Linked DNA regions of Homo sapiens. The protein of the gene in region 2 purifies or fractionates together with the protein of the main gene of each other region. This does not show direct contact. Each region holds a gene or a part of one and is shown on either strand. Other genes may lie near its edges.

Region 1 (3,500 bases), on a different chromosome or scaffold from region 2:
TATATGTAGTACATGGGACTTTTCTAACTTCCAAATAGGTTCAGCTCTTAAACTTATCATTTGAAACAAGATGTTTAGAATCTAGAGCATTTTTTGTCATTGAAACAATGGCAAAGTAGGTTTAAGTTTACAAAGTAGGTTTAAGTTTCTATGATAGCCCCTGCCCCAAATCTATTTAACCCTACCACTGAAATTCTGTTTTTGCAATAGTAGGAAAGAAACATTACAGTACCAATAAATATACTAAAGATTAATAATAGCTAGGAACAGCTTTTAATTTATCTAGCATGCTAGTGCTTGAAGAAATCCAGATTTAATTAGAGAGATTTTTTTTTCTTCTGGAAATCTAAAAGAGTCTTCTGGGGGACTTCAGAGGTCAGTTGTATTGAGTTTTTATTACATATAATATAACATTAAGTATATGAACTTCCTTTTCCTTCATACCAGCATGATATTACTATTACTCTGAACATTTAGCACATAAATTTAGGGCATTTGGAGGCTTAGGGGAAAAAATAGATTGAAGAGAGAAATTTTAGCATCAAGAGTTGAATGAAAAGAATGTAAAAGGGTATGTGCAGAGAGATTTTTAAGAAGAATTTTTTTCAGAAGATAGGCAGGGAGATAACATCGGTGTATGTGAAGTTGCAAGAAAAAAATGTGATTTAAAAAGATGATCCTGTCAGACTTTCTTTCAAATTTGACACCAAGCCAGGTGGCATGACTAGCTCAGGACTATTTAATTGCTGCCTGCCAGGTTGGGGGCCATGTCACAGGGTGAGGAGATTGCAATGAGTTTGTTGTAGTTGGTTACAGTAAGAGAAGAAATGTGTACAATTGACCACCCATGAATATACAGTATCCTGTACATAGCAAGTGTTTAAATATTTGTTGAATGAATATGTGAGTGAATGAGTAAATGAACACAGGTGCTTATAAAAATCAGAGTGCTCACATACCTTTCTTGATAGGCTCTAAAAATGAAAAGCTTGAGGATGTGGAGTATGTCATTAAAAGGCCTTTCATTGAAGTCATGTGACATATTAATACAGCCAGATTATTTGGCTCATCTATAAAATTTGGTTGAGTGACTTGGAATGTTTTTCAGTGTGTATGCAATTAAAATCCCAATGAGGTTTTTTTTTTTTTTTTTATGAGAAAAGGGTATTCCAAGTAAGTTTAAAAACACACTACTGGTCATTGGAAATACCGTAAGATGATTAGTGAGTGATTCCAAAAGCAAATGACAATTTCAAGAGAAATGGCTGCTCCATAGAAAAAAATTTGAACAACCTGTTCATAATAGCTTGGGTTTTTTGTTTATTTGTTTGTTTTTGAGATGGAGTCTCACTTAATCGCCCAGGCTGGAGTGCAGTGGCGCGATCTCGGCTCACTGCAACCTCCACTTTCCGGGTTCAAGCAATTCTCCCGCCTCAGCTTCCCGAGTAGCTGCGATTACAGGCACGCACCACCATGTGCAGCTAATTTTTGTATTTTTAGTAGAGATGAGGTTTCACCATGTTGGCCAGGCTGGTCTCAAACTCCCAACCTCAGGCAATCTGCCCACCTCAGCCTCCCAAAGTGCTGGGATTACAGTGTGAGCCACTGTGCCTGGCCCATAATTGTTTTCGCATGCTAGGAAGCTATATTCACTGTTTATATATTACTCTCTCCTGTGTCACTTTATGTGTTTGGTCCCTTTTCTATCATGTTTGAGTAAAAAGCCTAGCTTAAATCAGTATCTGCATCATCTTTTGAAATCCTAGTCATTTGGGATGGATCGTAAGACTCCGTACTATTTCATGAAGGAAAATTGCTAACCTAAAACCTTGTTTTGAGGTCTTATTTTTAAGTGAAAAGTTAGTAGTATTTAATAATTTAACATATTATATATATAAGATTAATCTGAATCTTAATTTTAAGAAGTACAAGCTCATTGTATTCTTTCCTATTAATTCCTTATTCTACAATTCCTTGGATTTATTTGCTTAAATGATAGGATTTTAAAGAAATAACTCTGTTTTTCAGCTGTATTTTGGGAACGTTGCAATGAATTACAGGACATTGAGAAAATTATGGCTCAAATTGAACGTGGAGAAGCAAGAATTCAACGAAGGATCAGTATCAAGAAAGCCCTGGATGCCAAAGTACTATGTTTTATGTCAAATTATTATTAGATCGTTTTAATTGAAATAGTGGTCAGCTTTGACTTCTTACTGCACATTCAATTAAAAGCACTATTTTGTTTAAATACACAGATTGCAAGATACAAGGCTCCATTTCATCAGTTGCGCATTCAGTATGGAACCAGCAAAGGAAAGAACTATACTGAGGAAGAAGATAGATTCTTGATTTGTATGTTACACAAAATGGGCTTTGATAGAGAAAATGTATATGAAGAATTAAGACAGTGTGTACGAAATGCTCCCCAGTTTAGATTTGACTGGTTTATCAAGTCTAGGACTGCCATGGTATGTATTCCTTTCTTACCGATTTCCTCCAACTTTTTATTTTGAAAAATTTCAGATGCCATATATCCTTCACCTAGATTCTCCAATTAACATTTTGACACATTGGCGCTCTCTCTTTCTCTCTCTCTGTGTGTATGTGTATACATACGTAGCACCTATATATACGTGCAGAATCTATATTTTGTATTAAAAAATACGGGGACATCTATATTCTATATTCTGAAATGCGTATCTATATTTTATAAGTATACTTAACTATATTTATGAACCATTTGAAAATTACAGACAATGTGAGTGTTCATCTCTAAATACTTAAGCATGTATCTCCTAAGAATAATGACATTTTCTTACATAACCACAATCCCACCTGAAAACATTGATTCAGTAATGTCATTTAGTATACAGTCTATGTATAAGCTTTTCCAGTTGCCCCCAAAATGCCCCCTTTATAGCTGTTTTTTTTAAAATTGATGATCCTGCAAGTTTCACACATTACATTTCGTTGTTGGGTCTCTTTAATCTCTTTTAATCCACAACCTTTTGGTTTTCGTGATCATGACTTTTTAAAGGTGTCCAGGCTAGTTGTCTTGTAGAATGTCCCACATTGTGGATTTACCTCATTACTCATTGTAAGATTCAGGTTCAACGTATTTGGCAAGAGTGCTGTGGAAGTGATGTTATGTATTTTTTATTGCATCCCATCAGAAGGCACATTATGTCATGTTGTCACACTGTTGGTGATGCTAAGTTTGGTCACTTGTTAATGTGATGATCTTCAGAGCTCTCCGCTTTAGAGTTATGTTTTCCCCTTTGTAATTAAGCAGGTTATGCTTGAGACTATGCGAATGACTTAAAGATGGACTTTTAATGAAAAGGAGTTGTTGCCTAAGTTGAGTTTTTTATTAGGAAACAGAATATTTAAGTTGAAGAGATATTTTATTTTAGCTTATGTGATTTCCTCCATTACTTTCTAATGTGAATTGTGTTCCTATTCTAGTCCTACTTAGCAGTGGTGTTCATGATGATTTT
Region 2 (3,500 bases):
GAGCAGGGCATGCACCCTGAGACCAGATTCAAAGCCAGTTGTTTATTTTTGTTAACTCCTAGGTAATCCTAGGTAACAAAGAGTTATTGTGTGAATTTCATAAGCCCTCAGGTCCTGAGGGCTGGGTGGTTCAGGGGTTAAAAGCACCTCATCTGCTCCCTTCCCCCAAGCTGGGCCTAAGCCTGGGTTAGGTCACAGATTGCAGAAGGTTTAGGAGGTTGGGCTCACGGTTTCTAGTCCCTGCATGCTGGCTGGGTGGGGAGAGCTCTCCTGTTGCTGGGGGCATCTGGGGCCTGCATGGGGCTGTGGAAACGGAGCCACTTTTGGAGGGAAGGGATAGAAGGGAGTTGAGCAGTTCAGAGGAGGGTGGAGTTGAGAGGCCAAGGGCTGTTGCCAGGGAAACATAGTTCTCGGTCTTCAGCCTGGTCTTCCTGAGGGCTGGGAGTTTGATTTGACTGGTAGGAAAGTCTGAGCTTGATAGGGAACCCCTGTCCTCTCCCACCTTCCCACAAAGGGAGGGTACATAGTTTGCTGGTGCCCCTGCTGGCAGGACCAATTTAGGAGTGACCAGAACAAGGTATGTGGAAGTGGGTTGTGGGGGTCCAGAAAGCTCTAGAACAAACCTGATGCCCATTCCACTTGGCGGCATTAACCTGCTGCCCCTGGCTTCCAGAGCTCATAGCACTTCCCTGTGGCCACTCTGCTGTGTGCCAGTCACCCCTGCTCTTTAACTAGAGCCTCCTTTTGGCCTGGGTTAAGGCCTGGACTGGGACCTTCCTCTGGAAGCCGTTCGGGGTGTGTAATGTGGTTAGTCATTACCCTCAGTAATTAATCACCCCTGGTAGTAATGAAAACTCACATTCACATTCGACCTGATAGTTTACAGAGGGCTTTTATATACTTCTGTCATTTGAACTTCCCAACAATTCTTACAGGTACTGTTTTTATGCTCATTTTACAGATAGGAATTCCAAGACTCAGAGAAATCAAATGACTATCCCAGAGTTACAATCTAGTGGATAATAGAGCTAGGCCTCCAGTCTCAGACCTCCTTGTTCTTCTGAATCTTGAGGCTTAGATCACATGACTTTTTCACATTGGTGACATACTAGAAATGGGGGTCATTCCTTCCCATAAAGTAAAATGAAATAAAATAAAAGCCAGTAGGTGGGCTAATAGCTGATTTTAACCCTTTTGATGTCTCAAGTTCCTATGCTTAGGGGCCAGGTGTCAGTTTATTGCTCTAAATCAAAACAATCCCCGTAAATGCCCAATGAGGCTCTCAAATTGAGAAGTTGATTTTCATCAGAGTAAATGAAGAATATTATTATATTTTACACATCAATAAATCAATGTAGCCCTAATTTTGCCACACAGGAAATCAATTCCAGTCTTTCTAAATCATCAAAGATGTTATGAACAAAGTAATTTCACAAATTATGGCAAGTAACACATTTATTGATGACTGCAGTTTAGGAATTTAGAATCTGTGAGCACTGTAATATAATATGGTACACCGGCATGAGCTGAGTGAAATACAGATTATATGGTGAAATTGTAATGCATCATTTGCTATTAGTGGACTGGTAATAATTACCAGTTTCAAAGCAGCTCTCTCCATGTAATCTTTAGTCTCAATCGTAACAGCCCTTCTCATTGACATTATGATTACACTAGCTGCCCTCATGATCTAGAATATCTAGTTGATGGGAATACTAAAATGCGATAGTGAAAACTGTATGTTGTATGCTCATTATAAGATAAAATGCCATTTTCTCTGACCTGATGTATGAGAGAGAGGGGAGGATAACATCACAGTGTTAACATACTGTAGCATGATCACATAACTGGCTCTGAAAAAAAGTTTAGGATGCTCAGGGCAGCAAAATAAAATGGACTTTTCTCATTTAAGCCTTTTTGAAAGGATACAAATGAGATCCTTGATGTAGTGCTGTATGCCACAGATTTTGGCATTTATCAATGACTACAATTCATGGCACATGTGAAACCAGCACCACTAATTATGAGTCTAGTCCTGGATTTCAATCGATGTTTTATAAGGTAAAATATAATTTTAAGGCATTTGGAGTGATGAACGTGTTAAGGACTTGGATTATCAGACAAATCTTTTTACTTGCCCAACTCAGATCGTCAGGCTAAATAGGAATGATAGTCACCCAGAGATCTAGGGAGGACAAGGAGGAAGCCACAGAGGATCATGTAGTTGGAACCAGATAGTTTTTTTTCCAGCCTATTTGGGACCCAAGTTATTGTTCAACAACAACAAAAAATTTATAAAAATGTTCTCAATGAAGCTTTTTATTTCCCTTTGAAGAGAGGAGGCAAACAAAAATAGGCAGATAATGTGATACTAATGTCAGCGTTTTCTTTCAAAATCTTTCTGCCTTTTTTCCCCCTTCCACATTAGACAAATGTTTGAAACCTAATTTTGGTATCTTACCATCTAATCTTGTTTAAGAGATTTACCCAGGAGTGAGATATATTGAGTGGGATTATAAATGCGTTGTAAAGTAAATTACAAGGTCAGGGCAGGAGTCCATTATTTAGACAAGTGCTTGAGCGAGGCTGGCTTATTTTGGAATACCAGTGTTTGGGGGCTCCTGAGAAGACCCTGCCGGCTTTTCTTTCTGACTTGCTAAATGGAGGCATCATATAATTGATTAATTCCTCATTCTCACTCTTAACCTCCCTGGTAGATTTTTTTTTTTTTTCCTTCTTAGAAAGTTACTGACAAATACTAGCTGTGGCCTTAAAGAACTCTTGCAGCCCTTCTTTTAAAAGAAGGAGAAAAGTTTGTTATTTCTCAGTTATATTTTAAGGCTTTTTTTTTCAGAATCTCTGGGAAGTTTTGTTTTTCTCATCCTCGTCCTTTGGCTACCATTACTTCTGCCCTTTTTAATGTTGCAGTTGACTAGTAAACTGTTGGTCAGTTATTCCATATATATATATATTTAATGTAGCTATCTCCCCATATATATTTAATTTAGCCATCTCCCCAAATGAAATATTTTGTGAAGTCAAGCTGGCCCTTCTTTGCCAAAGTGGCATTTACCACTCTTGGGTTCTTTTCAGCAAGGGAAATAATGTGACTTAAGCAGGGCCCCTCTCCAGACGGCTTGGCTACTGGCCAGAGTTGACTAGCTGAACTGTATCTTTCTGTTTCTTTCTCAACTGGAGCTGAGTCCCAGCCGAGGGCGCAGGATGTTGTATAATTTGGTTCACGTTGTTAGCCTCTCAAAACAATGAGGAGGAGGATAGTGTAGCATTTCTCAGCCTGCTGCCTGTCATGGCGCTGGCTGTTTTAACTGTTCCTTAAACTAGGATGCTGTGTCTGCTTAAGTCGGCACCAGCCACTCCTCCTAACTTTTCCAGACTTGCATTTGTCTGACCGGGGGACAACTCCTAAAGATTGGATACAGCCTATCCGTTAAATCTGAATGAAGTTTTTCTTTCAGATTTTTTAAACATTCTTTGAGATA

Evidence for each region. The genes of interacting proteins can lie anywhere in the genome.
Region 1: the proteins of BCL11A (region 2) and SMARCA1 purify together in Homo sapiens (affinity purification with mass spectrometry, with the first as the bait; one large-scale study listed by BioGRID). This does not show direct contact.

The regions. Positions count from the first base shown.
Region 1 is NC_000023.11:129,464,491-129,467,990, reverse strand, and holds part of SMARCA1 (SWI/SNF-related matrix-associated actin-dependent regulator of chromatin subfamily A member 1), read left to right. Parts: intron 1-2,028; coding exon 2,029-2,147; intron 2,148-2,258; coding exon 2,259-2,471; intron 2,472-3,500.
Region 2 is NC_000002.12:60,463,155-60,466,654, reverse strand, and holds part of BCL11A (BCL11 transcription factor A), read left to right. Parts: intron 1-3,500. UniProt on the Homo sapiens protein: Transcription factor. Associated with the BAF SWI/SNF chromatin remodeling complex. Binds to the 5'-TGACCA-3' sequence motif in regulatory regions of target genes, including a distal promoter of the HBG1 hemoglobin subunit gamma-1 gene.